Linked DNA regions of Homo sapiens: region 2 is linked to region 1. The links come from fine-mapping of genetic effects on gene expression. Tissue or cell type: whole blood. Region 1 holds a variant in brackets; the other region holds the start of a gene. All regions are shown on one strand. Distances are from middle to middle.

What was found. PIP is the estimated chance that this variant, and not a neighbour inherited with it, causes the effect.
Region 2: NAP1L1 starts here. The variant in region 1 is fine-mapped to the expression of NAP1L1 in whole blood (TOPMed, PIP 0.95).

Annotation. Positions count from the first base shown.
Region 1 is chr12:76,140,495-76,148,601 of GRCh38, forward strand. No RefSeq gene overlaps it. Among named protein-coding and RNA genes, the nearest start is that of NAP1L1, 60 kb to the left of the region's middle. The variant C/T (reference allele first, on the strand shown) is at 4,965.
Region 2 is chr12:76,080,296-76,088,402 of GRCh38, forward strand. It overlaps NAP1L1 (nucleosome assembly protein 1 like 1), which reads right to left and starts at 4,390. Exons shown (of 15, transcript NM_004537.7): 1 at 4,272-4,390. LOC124902970 (a long non-coding RNA gene) reads left to right here and starts at 4,790. Exons shown (of 2, transcript XR_007063379.1): 1 at 4,790-4,872; 2 at 5,916-6,438. RefSeq lists silencers at 3,705-3,774, 3,825-3,884, 3,955-4,004, 4,145-4,224, 4,665-4,824 and an enhancer at 4,120-4,661.

The sequences.
Region 1 (8,107 bases):
GGCAGGAGAATTGCTTGAACCCACGAGGTAGAGTTTGCAGTGAGCCAAGATCATGCCATTGCACTCCAGCCTGGGCAACAGAGAGACTCCATCTCAAAAAAAGAAAAAAAGGAATGCTGATGAGCGAGGAGCTGATCTGGTTGAAACAGGAAACCTTCCTACCTTACTGCCTTGAAACTCCTACAACTCAGCTAAACATTTTTGCTAACTGTCACCAGAGAATTCCCTTGGTTCCTTCAACTACTGAAACCTGGGCTTGCAACAGATTTCATTCAAGTTTAATTTAGAGGAGAACACACAATAATCCACCATCTGTTAGTGTCAAGATACTGGTATACAGTTGACCCTTGAACAACACTGGTTTGAGTTGCACAGTTCCACTTAGATGCAGATTTTCTTCCCCACTGCCATCCCTGAGACAGCTAGACCAACCCTTTTTCTTCCTCCTCAGCCTACTCAAGGTGAAGACAACAAAGATGAAGAACTTTATGATGATTCACTTCCATTTAATGAATAGTAAATGTATTTTCTCTTCCTTATGATTTTCTTAATAACATTTTCTCTAGCTTACTTTATTGTAAGATAACAGTACATAATCCATATAACCTACAAAATATATGTTAACTGTGTGTGTTATTGGTAAGGCTTCTGGTCAACAGTAGGCTATCAGTAGTTAAGTTTTGGGGGAGTTTAAAGGTATGTTTGCCTTTTTCCCTTTTTTTTTTTTTTTTTTTGAGACAGAGTCTCGCTCTGTTGCTCAGGCTGTAGTGCAGTGGCTTGATCTTGGCTCACTGCAACTTCTGCCTCTTGGGTTCAAGTGATTCTCCCACCTCAGCCTCCCAAGTAGCTGGTTACAGGTGTGTGCCACCATGCCTGGCTAATTTTTTATTTTTGTTTTTATTTTTTTAGTTGAGATGGGGTTTCACCACATTGGCCAAGCTGGTCTGGAACTCCTGGCCTCAAGTGATCTGCCCATCTTGGCCTCCCAAAGTGCTGGGATTAGAGGTGTGAGCCACTGCACCCGGCTTAAAAGTTATATTTGAACTTTTGATTGTGTAGGGGGTTGGTGCCTACACAATCCCCTAGATACTTGGTTGTGTATCATGTATCTCAGGTATCTACTGTATTTTATAGGTATCAAAGCAACAATGCAATTTATTTATTAATTTGTCAAATACTTTGTGTCTTCTATAAACCAGGCTGTTACAAATACAATGGCAAACAAAACTGGCAAGATCCTTGCTAATAAAGAAGTGAATAAACAAATTAGTAGCAACAAATACGGTAAGAAATAAATAACAAGATAATTTAAAATCATAGGCTGGGTGCAGTGGGGCATGCCTACAATGCCAGCACTTTGGGAGGCCATGGTGGGAGGTCACTTGAGCCCAGGAGTTCGAGGTCAGCCTGGGCAATATAATGAGACCCCCGTCTCAACTTTGTATTAAAAATTAAAAATAAAATAAAATAATAGTAAGTGCAATTAAAGAAATAAAGTCATATATTAGAGGTGTCCATGAAAAAATGAAATAAAGTAAGAAATTAAAATAGGAAAGTAAGAAAATGACATTTGATTTGAGTAATTATTATAAAAAAACCATTAATTTATAAAAACATATATATGGGCAAAGAGCAAGAACACACAATAAAGAAGAAATACAAAAGAACAGTATGAAGAGATTCTTCACTTCACCAGTGGCAGGGAAATGCAAACAAAAATATTATAAACTACTGCATGCTTACTTTAGAGGAAGCACAGAACAGTTCAGAAGGCTGCTCTTGTTTCTGACACTAAGTGCATTCTGACCCAAAACAATAATGGCCACAGTTTGGTTCACCTGGGTAGCACCTGCTACTCATAGAAGGACTTCTATCAATCACCCCTGCTGTCACTGTTTCAGTTTGTGAGGCATGTTGTGACCAGGGCCAGCTCCTTGGGCAATCTGTTTCACACAATCACAGCAAATTGAGAGGCACTGGGCAATCAGAGACACGGGCTGAGATTTAATTCTCACTGGTATTCAGGTGAGCTGGGACCTGCCCTGTTCAAATCTGCACTCTTTGTTCTTCAAATACAGAACAAGAGTGGTAGGAGAGTAGTTGGCAAAGCTCGTTAAGATGTGTCACAACACCTGAAGTATCACCCTTTCTCTTGAAAACTGGAAAACGGTATCTGGTCACAAGGCCAGCAATTAATGTCAATCTGCAGAAACAAACAGCCAAAAACAAAAACAACAATATAACAACAAAAAAAAAAACAACAAAAAACAGAGGCAGAGAAACTGATAATCACACCTTCCCAAATTAATGTTGTCTACATGCTAATTTTTTTCAATTAAATTTATCCTCTAATTCAAATTGACAATTTAAAGGTAAATCACCATTAGCCATCCTACTGGTACACTCTGTTTAGTGTAGCACATTGTAATTCAAATACTATCTACAAATCAATGTTTAAAGAAAAAAGTGATCTTTTATTTATTTATTTTAATTTTAATTTTTTCTTGAGACAGAGTTTCGCTCTGTCACCCAGGCTGGAGTGCAGCGGTGTGATCTCAGCTCACTGCAACCTCCGCCTCCCAGATTCAAGCAATTCTCCTACTTCAGCTTCCCAAGTAACAGGGATTAAAGTGCACGCCGCCACACCTGGCTAATATCTGTTTATGTTTTAAAGCTCTCTTGAGAGGTGAGGAAACATATACTACTTAATTTTCTTTTTCAGAATGAAGGAAACAGGCTAAATGCATGACAGCATTCTATTTCTAGACTCTCCCATGTCCCTGCTCCCTTCTCCCAGAAATTCTTAAACATGCACAAAGGAGATACATACAATGATGTTCACTAAAGCGCTATTCATAATAGTGAAAATGAGGAGATAACTGCCCATCAGAATGGAAAAAAAAGTTTAATCATACGGATTATTATTTAGCAGTTTTTCAGAATCACAACTAACAATTAAAAAGGGCTTGCCATGTGCCCTGCCCTGATGTGAGAACCTTATGTATATTCAGTCATTTTATGTTATGAGAGTTAATGAACTCGAAAGTGTCAAATGCTTACAACTGTGCCTGGTCCATAGTAAGCCCTTAGAAAATCTCAGCTGGGGTTTTTACCTTGTTTTTAATGCACTATTTTTTTTTTGTACAATAGCATCATTGTAATACCACCTGTATATTATTATCCCCATTGAGAGAAAAGAAAAGTAGGACACAAAGAGGTTAAGCTACTTGCCCAAAGCATTTGCTTTCTCGGGGTTCAAAAGCAGACAAGAAGGCTCCAGCCCAGAAGCTTCCTGCCAGAAAGCCACAGGCCAGAAGGCAGCACCTCCTCCGAAAGTTCAAGAAGGGTCAAAAAGCTGCAGCCCAGAAAGCACCTGCTCCAAAGTCATGTGGCAAAAAAGCATAAGAGGTGATTATAGAAGTAAATGAAGGTTCTTTTTGGCATGCTGGCAAAAAAAGAAACAAACAAACAACAACAAAGCCATGATAGAAATCCTTGGTTCTAAGATTATCAGTATCCTCTCCATGCATACTATCTCTTTACATTCTTCTTCCTTTCTTCAGCTTTCCCATGACCAATGATAAAGCACAGATTTTGGATACTAGTCAAATAAACTGGACAGAAAGTAATAAAGTTTTTTCTGCCATCGTCTCCCAGAAGAGTGAAGAAATGAGGAAAACACAGTGAAACCTCATTATACAGCATCTTCCTACAGATGTAGTGGGACCAATCCCCTCCCCACACGCATAGCACCCCGTTATAACACAAAGCAGAGATCCCCCTGGCATTCTATCAGAGTTCTGATGGATGTATTTTTCTGAAGGATGTCTAGGCAGTGTGACTTGGCATTCTGCCCAGGGAGTGAGGGATGTATGTATGTGTGTGTGTGTGTGTGTGTGTGTGTGGGTGGGTGTGTGGGTGTATACATGCATTTGAAGAAGTTTCCCCAGATGATTCTGACCTCCCTGCAATATACTATGAGACCAAGAAGCCATAGCTTTTAAAAAGTGTAAAATCACATTTACAGAAGCATCACACCCCAGGAAAGGAATGTCATTTCTGATTTGCAAAGCTCACAGGAAGGGAGAGAAGACTTTCATCTGTCATTCCTTGAGATTCTGAGGCAAGGGACCTTGCTACATCTGCTGAGAGAAAGCCACTTTGTTCATCTTGAATTTCCATCACCATCACAGAGAAGCTGTAGGCCAAACTTGTTCTTTCATTCCCCTATCATCAGATAAAATAATCTAAATTAAACACAAAGATGTTAAATGTAAATGTACATACTCCCAAGCTAACAATGTAATATGATTTGTGAAAAGAGCTATTCTATATTGATCATAAGCCTTTAGGTGAGGCCTGTGAGGAGGGCATGGACTTGGGGCTGGGGTACAAGCAATGGTTTTCATATCACGGAGAATTGGGATGCCATTAACCGTGTAAAATAATCATTCCAAGTGAATGTATGGTACACCTGCATTAGGAGTTAGAGACCAGCCTGGCAACATAGTGAAACCCCGTCTCTATTAACAAAAAATAGAAAAGTTACCTGGGCATCGTGGCACGCACCTGTAATCCCAGCTACTCCAGAAGCTGAGGCAGGAGAATTGCGTAAACCCAGGAGGCGGAGGTTGCAGTGAGCTGAGATTGTGCCACTGCACTCCAGCCTGGGTGACAGAGCAAGACTCTGTCTCAAAAAAAATTAACACATAAAAATAAAGATGCTGAACAAAATTAAAGATAAGTTATAAAAAAATAATCAATTCCTTTGGTCAGGTAAAGTTCTCTCATTTATGAATTATTAATAATGATATCTAAAAATGTTTTTATCTCCAGTGCCCAAAGCACTGAGCAGTTGAATTCCGGTTTCTCCTCAGACTGCCTTGTTTTAATAGACAGAAGATACTACGGAGCATCCACTTCCCACACAGAAATAAAGGCACTTGTACGTATCACCTTTTTGT[C/T]ACCATTTGAACCACTAAAATGCTGTTTGAAAATTTAGTGATGATCAGAATCTTTTCAAGGGAAACCTTACAAAATATGGGTGCCCAGGCATCACCCATCTCCCAGCTATGTGTTCAGACATGGTGGGAATGAAAACCCACAGCCTATGAAGATGGGGTTAGGCTTATTCTTCGCTCTTTGTGGATGTATCATGTCTAGATTTGCTCAAGTTTTCAGCATTCTTGGGGCACTAACCTAAAAATCTCTTGGAAGATTGCAGAGGTTATAAGGTTGAACTCAGTGTAGCTGTCCTCCAAGCTGCATACCCCAGAGGGAAATTTATGAAGATATTAAGTCTATATAACAGCATCAGAGAAAAAAGGAAGTTGGTCATTTGGTGAACACTCCATTAACGACCGTTATTAACTTCTTACTATATGTTCTAGATTGTAATAGGAACTGGGAAAAATGGAAGAAAACTCTCAGACCATTACTTAAACAAGTACAATTAGAAAATAAGATATTAAAAAATCATCTCAAGCTTCTTCTTGATTTCTATATTGCTAAGGTTAGAAACCCACCAGAAGGATTACTTTATCAAGAAAACATCATGGAGGCCAGTGGCTTGTGGAGCGCAGTGGCTTGTGCCTGTAATCCTAGCACTTTGGGAGGGCAAGGCGGGTGGATCACTTGAGGTCAGGAGTTTGAGACCAGCCTGACCAACACGATGAAACCCTGTCTCTACCTAAACATACAAAAGTTAGCTGGGTGTGGTGGTGAGCACCTGTAGTCACAGCTACTCAGGAGGCTGAGGCAGGAGAATCACTTGAACCTGGGAGGCAGAGGTTGCAGTGAGCCAAGATAGCGCCACTGCACTCGAGCCTGGATGACAGAGTGGGACTTTGTCTCAAAAAAAAAAAAAAGAAAGAAAAAGAAAAAGAAAAGGAAAATATAATGGAATTTTTGATAAACCCATGAGTTACTCTTCATGGGAAAGACTGCGACAGGCGGTCTAAACTACACTGCATATTCAAATATTGGGAAGCTTTGGTTTTCTCAGGATTGCTTACAGGCTGAGAGGCTTAGGAATCCTGGGATTTAAAGAAGAGTTGAGAAAAAGTTTCCAGGATGCTGGTATGTATGTCCCTAAAGCAAAATAACCAAAGAGAATTTCAGGGGCAAGAATGGCTGAAGAAATTCAAAAACTGTGGTAGCTAAAATCTGTGTGCTGTGACATCCTGCTCTACAACAGCCCTGTGTGAGTGGTGCTTAGTACTCGATGGAGTGGGGACTGTGTCAGCAATGTTGGGAAGACAGCAGCGGGATCAGGAACAGGAGAGGAAGGGCTAAGGATTGAACTTATTTGATGTTAATATTAATATTCACTAGGACCATGAATCCTTTTAAGTATTTCTGCTTATGTTTTAGAGCGAATCAGCTGAATTTTTAAAAAGGTTACCATTAAACTGACACCTAACTATGCATGTTTCTAATATGAATTTTTTATAATATCAGATTCTAGAATAAAGCATAATATATCCAGGAGGAGAGGTAATTGAGGCCGTGGACTAAACTGAAGCAGACCTGGGTTGAAATTCTGGCTCTTGGCCTTCATTTTCTCATCCATTCACTATTGTGAGGATGGAATGAGAGGTTCTAAGTTTCAGCACTGAGCACGGCTGGTGCATGGTAAGCATTCAATAATGGGAATCATTATTGTGACCTTTAATGGGTTCAGGAGAAATTTCCTTTGATCCAATTCTGAGACATTGGAAGAATTCCTTTGTCAAGATGTTTATACCATCAGAAAGATAATTATTTTTTCTTAAAAATATTGTTTTATATTAAAAACATATAACTATTGTCAGGGCTTTTCTGACTGCAAGTAACAGAAACCTCAACTTAAACAAGCTTAAGGGAAAAGGGAATTTATTGATTTTAACAACGAAAACACCAGGGGCCTTCAATCTCATTAGATAAATGAGTTCAAAAATGTCAAGAGTCCCTCCCTCTCTCTCTCTCTCTCTCTCTCCCACTCTCTCTCAGTTCTACCATTTTCTGTTGGAATTTGGCATCAGACTGACCCTACCCATGTCGTGGTCACTGTCACTGTCAGGCTTAGATTGCCCAAACTTGATATCTAGGAGAAAGAGACCTTCTTCCATTTGTTCTCACAAAAGTTTCATAATTGAGTCTCATTGACATTGAATGAGTCATGAACCCATCACTGAACCAACCCATGGGCTAGAATAGTGGGATACCCTGACTGAATAGGCCTGGGACACATGCCCACCCTTGGAGATAAGGGGAGGTGACTTACTCATAACACATGGATGGAGAGTGGGAAGGGAGTGGGAATGAAGGTAAAATTTTTTTACCCTAAAAAAATTTGAGTATTGTCACAAGAAAAATGAGAAATGGATGCTGTGCAGACAAAAACACAGACATTCACAAAAACCTTGAATGGCACTGGTCTTAGAGGAGAGGGACAACATTATGTACCACAAGCACATAATGAATAGGACTGGACAATGGACCAAATCTGTGTTGTGGAAGGCACTTAATAATGGCATTTTTAGGCCAGGCGTGGTGGCTCACACCTGTAATCCCAGCACTTTGGGAGGCCGAGGTGGGCGGATCACGAGGTCAGGAGATCGAGACCATCCTGGCTAATATGGTGAAACCCCATTTCTACTAAAAATACAAAAAATTAGCTGGGCGTGGTGGCGGGTGCCTGTAGTCCCAGCTACTCGAGAGGCTGAGGCAGGAGAATGGTGTGAACCCGGGAGGCGGAGCTTGCAGTGAGCCGAGATTGCACCACTGCACTCCAGCCTGGGCAACAGAGTAAGACTCTGTCTCAAAAAAAAAAAACAAAAAATGGCATTTTTAGCCATCCATGTTATTGTAATTAATCTTTTAAAGAGAAGATGCCTCAATATACCCTCAATACATAGCCTATTATATCCACTGTATAATAAATATTTTTTCTAGGTTTCTTAGTATGTCCTATTTTTTGTTTTGTTTTGCTTTTTGTCTTAGTCCATTTTATGGTGCTATAACAGAATACCACAGACTGGTTAATTTATAAACAATGGAAGTTTATTTGGCTTATATTTCTGGAGGCTTGGAAGTCCAAGAATGAGAGGCTGCATCTGGTGAGGGC
Region 2 (8,107 bases), 60 kb before region 1:
AATTATTTACAGTACATAATACTTGATAAGGACAATAAATGATTTATTGGTTTATGTATTTACTATACTATGCTTTTTGTGGTTAGAGTACACTCCAACTTATTTTTAAAAAAGTTAAAACTGCCTACAGTATTCAACATAGCAACATGCTATACAGGTTTGTAGCCTAGGAACAACAAACAGGCTATACCATATAACCCAGGTATGTACTAGGCCGTACCATCTAGGTTTGTGTAAATACATTCTATGACATTCACAAAAGGATGAAATGGCTTAATGATGCATTTCCCCCAGAACACATCCCCATCATTAACCATGCATGACTGTGTATGTAAACAAATTCTATGCTGGAAGAAGACTTCATGACCATAACTGCTATACAGCTTTTCCCTAGAGCACAGTGGGATACAAGGTGGAGTGCTTTTGAATTTCATGCTGCTATGGTTTGAGTATTTGTCCCCTCTAAAACTCAAGTTGAAATTTAATCCCCTATGTGGCAGCACTGAGAGATGGGGGTCTTTAAGAAGTGATTGGATCATGAGGGCTCCACCCTCACAAACGAATTAATCCATTCATGGATTAATGTATTTCTTTATAAATTACCCAGTTTCCCACCAGGGGAGCTGGAGAGCCAAGCTACCCAGTTAGCACACTCAGCCCCCTCCCCATGTGATACCCTGTACTGCCTTGGGAACCTTCAGAGTCTCCACAAGTAAGGTTCTCACCACATGGGTCCCCTCGATCTTGGATTTCTCAGCCTCTATAACTGCAAGAAATAAATTCTTTTTTTTTAAATAAATTACTCAGTTTCAGGTATTCTAAGCAACAGAAAATGAACTAATATTCATGCTGATTTATAGCAGAACAGTGTAAGTCAACATTCTTTCAAAACCAGGATAAAAATTATCTCATCATAAGTTATCACTGCTCACGTACGTAACCACGGACGGGTTATCTAACCACTCCACACCTATTTTTTTTCCTTGTTAAAATGTTGATGCTACCTGTCTCTAAGTAAATTAAATGAGCTAATAATACACACAGAATTTAAAACAATGCCTGAATAATCAATCAGTGTTGCCTATTACATTATTTATCCCTGTTATGCTCTTCTGTACCCTCTTTAGAAAATAATTCCAAGACTGAAATTATAACTCTAGACAGGTGTGGTGGCTCACACCCATACACTCAGCACTTTGGGAGGCCAAGGCAAAATCGCTTGAGGTGAGGCATTTAAGACCAGCCAGGGCAACACAGCAAGAGCCTGTCTCCACAAGGAAAAAATATATATAACCCTGTTTCCCAATAAAAATTAAAATGTACAAAACTTCTGAATAAGTAAAAATATATACAAATATGCAGGAAGTAAAAGGCAGAGTTGGTAACCAAAGGTATAGAAGCCATTTTCTATGGCAAGCCCACTAATGTACTCTAATGTTCTGTAGTCATTGTGCTAAACGACTTACATATGGATAGGTGTAAAGTAACAACTCTCTCCTTCTAACCCCTATTCTGCCCAAAAACTTATTTAGATGAAACTAGTTTGAAATGGAACTTAAAATCATCAAATTATAACAGGTTCCTTTGTGTAAACGCTGTATTACTCTTTGACCCCTTTACCCTTTCCTTCCTTTATAGCTCTCATCACAATTTAACATTCTACATCTAAGCAACCAATTTGCCTCTTTTGCTCATGACATAAGATACATGTCCATACAGGTGCTAGATAGTTACCCAAAGACTAAACTGAGAACACAATTACAGGTTTGATTAAACTTGAAGATCTGAATACACTGATCATTAATATTTTGATATTGATGAGTCATTCTCTCTAATCCTTTGTTTCAAATTTACAACCAAGAAGTGAATAAAATATTGTATTTTGACATCTTCAGACCTTTGAAGTCCAACAGATACTGCTTCTTTAGCCCCTTCTACAAAAAGACCCTTAGTTTTGAATATATTTTGAGAATTTAGAATCAACTCAGTTTTACCAGGAGCCAACAGGAGCAAGCTGAATAAAATGAGATGGCATTTTGGATTACATTAGTTATGGTACAGGTATTCGTTTCAAAAATCTCATTAAAGGCCAAGTGCAGTAATTTACCATATTCAGTATTAGCTTTATAATTCTGCAAATCAATGGGCCTAATATAAAAATAGGCACTTTGTAGCAGATAAAATTTAGAAAGATATTCAAATTGGTATAGTGAAAACTTTTAAATTTCTATTTACTAACATAATGTTGACTTGGAGAATCTATGAAAGTCAGGTTTTATGACAGAAGATGTCCAAGTCCACCTACCAGGGTTTAGTTCCATACATTCTCCAAAGGACAGTATTCTTAGAACTAAACTATAGATTTAGGCCATTTATTTAAACTTGGGCAACTTCAAACAAGCTTGAAACACAAGAGTGCCTTGAAAATAACTGTAAAAGTCATTTACTTCCCTTCGATTTTTAAATGGTACCCTATACATAAAAGGTTTTTCCCTTATTCAATCAAAGGTAATGTATATTACTTCCAAAGTATAGGAGTATTAATTTAAGCTGACCAAAAAAAGAGGACCCAGATACTCGTTTCCAAAGATGTTTTGAATCCACCTATTTTCAAAAGGCCAAATTTCATTTTACAGCTCTTGTGAAACCAGGCAAGCAGTGTAAATTTTAAAATGCAGCAGTGGGATATCTTCAAATGTAGCAGTGAGATTTTTAAAATGTAGTTGTTTCAAAACTGATCAGTGACCGTCTAAAATACGGGCTCCTTGAGGACATCCTGCGCCTGGTTCATCCTTTTTGCACTCTCAAAGTCTAGCCTTCCCAGATGGGACCTCAGTCCCAGCCCCCCTACACTGCCATCCCCCAGATCTTTAGGGCAGTAGGGTTCATTGACAAGGTTGCAGGCTACAAACTTGGCAAAGTTTATACTAACACCTCATTCCATCCCACCTCCCATCTTAAAAAGGAAACCGTTAAGTATCTTATTCTAGTGACTTCAATAAAGGAACTAATTTATAAGACAGCCAAGAACAATTAAAGTCATAAAGGGCCAAACATTTTATTTTCATCTAAGAACCGTTTGCAGGGGTGGTCCGATCTTTTGGCTTCCCTGGGCCACACTAGAACTGTCTTGGGCCACACGTAAAATACATTAACTAGCTGATGAGCTTTTTTTTCCAAAAAAAAAAAAAAAAAAAAAACCTCATGAATTTGTGTTGGGCCACATTTAAAGCCGTCCTGGGCCGCGGGTTGGACAAGCTTGGTTTAGGGGTTTAGATCGATCAGGATCAATACTCCCCAAATAAAAAACCCTGATCAAGACACCCATCTAACAGTACCTGGGAAACACAATAACAACCTTTTGCTAATAACAGTTAATATAAGCGCTATATACGCGTTAACTTTTTAAAATACTAGCAGTGGAGGCCCTTCCTTATCATCAGCTAACATCCACAATCTCTGGTACCAATAAAAAGATTAAGACCAAAGAGAAGCAGGGAAGAGTTTGAAACCCAGGGACAGGGCTTACTCGCTTACCCTTCCTTTTCACATTCCACCGTCTCTACAACTTTCAAAGTAAGCACAGACCGAGGGCAAGGGTCTCCAACCAGGCCCAGCCAGTGGCCATGAAGCCCATTACCACGTGTGGAGCGAAGCCGCCGGGGGTTTCCCCTCCCCGCGCGGCCGCCCCCAATGGGCGGAGAGCCCGGGAGCGTCGCAGCCTCCCCCGCCCCCTCCCCGCCTCGGGGACTCGTCCCTCCACAGCCCCTCCCTCCCGTCGGAATTCGCAGCCTCCGCCGTTCTTTTCATCTCCCAGCGGCCTCCCTCCTGGTATTATTTTTGAGGGAAAAGCAGGGGGGTGTCCAAGAGGCGGCCGGCTCTGCACTCGGCCCGGCCCGTACGCCGGGGGCCTCCCGGTCCTCGCGGCGCAGCCGAGTCTCAGGGCACCCGGGCGTCACCGCGGCCTCGCTCCGGTCCACGCGGAAAAGACGGTGGAGCTCAGAGAACCTTAGGCCTCCAGGCCGCGCCAACCCCTACGTCGCCTCAGCCGTCCCCGATAAAAGCGCTGGTCGGCCCCGGGGCCCCTCTCAGGCTCCGGGGTCCGGACTCCGCGGTCCTGTCCGACCTCACAGGACGACCCCGGAGGCCACGGGCGGCCAGCGGCCCCGACTCCCGGCTCCCAGTCCCTCCATCCCTCCGGCCCTCCCATCTGCGCAGGCCGCCCAGCCAACACCACGTTCCCCCTTCCCTTCCAGGCCCCCATCCGTTACCGGCGACTAGTATGGGGAGCCAGGCGGCCGGAGCTGCGCAGGCAGTGACTCAGGGCGGCAGCGGCAGCAGCAGCGGGAGGAGCAGGAGGCGGCGCCGCGAGCAGATGGCGCTAAAAAAGACCCAAGAGCCCGCCGCTCGCGCTCATATACAATTAGCGTCAGCACGTAGGGCCCTTTCGCCGCCCTCCTCCCGGCCTTGTAGTCTCCCAGCAACGCGAGCGAGAGGCGGGTCCAGGCCGGGTTGCCTAGCAACTGAACCGTCCTCCTTCCCCGGCGACCTCCATACCCCCACCGAGGACTCCTGCAGCCCCGAGGCCCAGGCGCCGCGCTTGGGCTCCTCTGGTTCCCGCCGGTGTCTAACCTCCTCTGTTAAGCACCCCACCATATCTTTTCTCCCTGCTGAGCCGGAAAGGAAATTTCAACCCCATCAGTTGTGGGGAAGGCCTGGCCCGCGTGCCCGGCGCCCGGCCCGCCCCGCCCCCTTCGGCGTTGTGCTGGGAACGCTCAGGGCTGGCGCCAGTCGCCTGGTCCCTCGCTCGCCGCAGCCTAGACGGCGGACGCTCCCTGTCAAGGCCTAATTCCTGCAACTCGCCGGCCCCCGGTAACCGTTTTCCTTCCCCGCCTAAGAAAAACAGTTTTTTCCTCTAGACCACTTCGGCGGCCTCTTCTGACAGTTTTGCTTCTCCTATGCCAGCGGGTCTCCGCGCCTTTAGGGGGTGCTCGTCATCCTTTGCCCCCCAACCCCCCGCCACATCCTCGTAACTGATGTACAGTCCGTCAGTTCGGCTTCAGTTCTTTTGACGGATGAAAATGGCATATTTGTGCATTCTCTGGATGCGTTATAATGAGGACACTCAGTACGTCCGTTGTTTCATCTTTCTGAAAAAGTAAATCACATTAAATCCTCAGGCTTGTAAAACCTCATAGCTAATTTTCAAGTGATGATGAATTGACTAATACTAACTCAAAAAGTTGTTCTCAGAGTATGGTCTGAGGGTCCCCAGACCCTTTCATGGGGAAGGTCAAAACTATTTCCATATTAATGTCAAGACTGCCTTTTGCATTCTCATTCTCTCACAAGTGTACAGTGGGGTTTTCCGGAGGCTACGTGACATGTGATAAGGAAACAGACTGAAAATAGAAGCAGATAGGAGAATCCAGTCATCTGCGGTTAAACCAGACGTTAAAGAGATTTGCAAAAACTCGATTTGGGGGCAAGGGGGAGTAGTTATTTTTCATATAAAAATTATTTTTTGTTAATATTTGATTGCTTTATTGTTTTTAAATGAAATACTCTTAAAATTTCTCACTTTTAATTTCTGATATAAATATCAGTATCAGTAATGCACATAAAAGTTCTTTGGGGTCCTCAACTTTTAAAGGAGTGTAAAGGAATCCTAAGACCACAAAGTTTGAGAACCTCTTCTCTAAATCTTGCATTTATTGAAACTTCAAACTGCCTAGAATCCCCTATTGTAATCCACACATTTAGCAACTTTATCTTCCGTTTTAGGGGATACAATGTTTTCCTTGGCCCTCCAGAACCTCATTGAAATTATTTGCCTTCCCACTCTATACTGCAGACGACTCTGTTTATTCATTCATTTTAGTTTTTCATATACAATTCCTTTGTTGTTCTCATAGCCTATTCCTGTACACCCTTCTCAACAATGATGTAATGATACAAGGAGCATAATAGCATCAATAATGGATCTTCAGGAAGAACCCACTATACATAAACAAGGTAGACCAGTGCTCAGTTTGAACATAAATTTGACACATTAATTTCAATAAGAACTTCAGGAATGTTGCATTTTAATCAAAGCTGTGCACGATGCAAGGTAATTAGCATATTAAAATGAACTAAATAACTTTCACTTTCTTTCCATAAATCTTTATGGTAGCAGAATTTCTGAGACAAAATTGAGAAGTTAGCTTTTGTGGTGGTTTTTATCCCACACCAGAGAGCCTCATCAATTTTCGGCACTTCGCTCATGAAGGCTCTGGATTTTTTAGGTTTCACCACCCCCCCACCAACCCCTATAACTTAGGTGTTATCATTACCAGTACATATGCTCTTTCCCCCTTTTCTCCAGCTTCCTCTTCTTTTTTCAGTGTATCCTAGCCAATCTAAGAAACTAAACAATAAAATATTTCTAATAATGCATGCCTTTGTAATATAGTCTTTTGAACCAGTTTGTAAATCTAAGTCTTTGCCATTAAAGTTCAGGGAAGGGCAGACATTTATGCATTCATTCAACAAATATTTATGTCAGGCACAACTTCGGACTCTGGAAATACAGCATTTAGTAAGAAAGACACGGTTCTTGATTTTATTGAAGTTATGGTCTAGTGAGGTGAGGCAAATGATTAGAGATAAAATAATTTTACTAATAAAATATTAGTAATAAAACAATTTCACTTATCAATAATAAATAATTGATAAGTGAATGCTATAAAGAAAATAAAATGAGAAAAGGGGTAGGAGGTGACTGACCTGAAGATACCTTTGAGCTTTTTTTTTTTTTTTTTTTCGACGGAGTCTCACTCTGTTGCCCAGGCTGGAGTGCAGTGGCGCGATCTCGGCTCACTGCAACTTCTGCCTCCCGGTTTCAAGCAATTGTCCTGCCTCAGCCTCCCGATTAGCTGTGACTACAGGCAGGCGCAACCACGCCCAGCTAGTTTTTTTGTGTTTTTAGTAGAGATGGGGTTTCACCATGCTGGTCAGTCTGGTCTCGAGCTCCTGACCTCAAATGATCCGCCTGCCTCAGCCTCCCAAAGTGCCGGGGTTACAGGTGTGAGCCTCTGCATCCGGCCACCTTTGAGCTTTTTACATTGGCCCCTCTTATACCCCCAAATCACACAATGTAGTTAACTCATCTAACTTAATTGCAATAAATGGTGACCCTGGTCACTGATCTTGGGCCATGCGAAATTTTCTGTTGCAGTTCCTTTTCTCATGCTCTCTTTGGAAGCATATATACTAAAATTAAAGGTCCTTTTTTCTCTATCTCCCATGATTTTCATTTGGTAGACTTTTATAGCATTGTAGCCTGGAGGCTTAGAGGGGTGGCTTTGGAGTCAAACAGCCTATTTTGTCCCCATTTTTCTACCACTTAATAGCTGTGTAACTTTGGATAAGTCAGTTAGCCATCCCAGGTTTCATTTTCCACATCTGTAAAATGGGGAAAATAAGCATGCATTTTTCATAGGGCTGTTGTGAAACTTAAAAAAATTTTTTTTTTTTTAAGTCAAGAGGGATCTTGGTATATTACCCAGGCTGGTCTTGAACTCCTGGACTCAAGAGATCCTCCCACTTCAGCCTCCCAAAGTGTTGGGATTACAGGCATGAGCCACCTTGCCCAGCTGTGAAACTTTTGGAGACAGAGTCTCACTCTGTCACCCAGGCTGAGGTGCAGTGGCGCAATCTCGGCTTACTGCAACCTCTGCCTCCCATGTTCAAACAATTCTTGTGCCTCAGCCTCCCAAGTAGCTGAGACTGCAGGTGCGCGCCACCACATCCCACTAATTTTTTTGTATTTTAGTAGAGATGGGGTTGCACAATGCCCAGGCTGGTCTCAAACTCTTGAGCTCAGACAATCCACCCGCCTCGGCCTCCCAAAGTGCTAGGATTACAGGTGTAAGCCACTGTGCCTGGCTCAGCTGTGAAACTTTAAATAACACATTTAAGTTGCTTAACATAATGCCTGACATATATAGTGACCGCTCAATAAAAGGTAACCATTTTTAACCTCTTACTGAAGTTTTGTTTTTATTTTTGTTTTATTTAAAGGTTTAAGGAACTACCCCGAAGTCTTCTGATAGTGTCTGACACT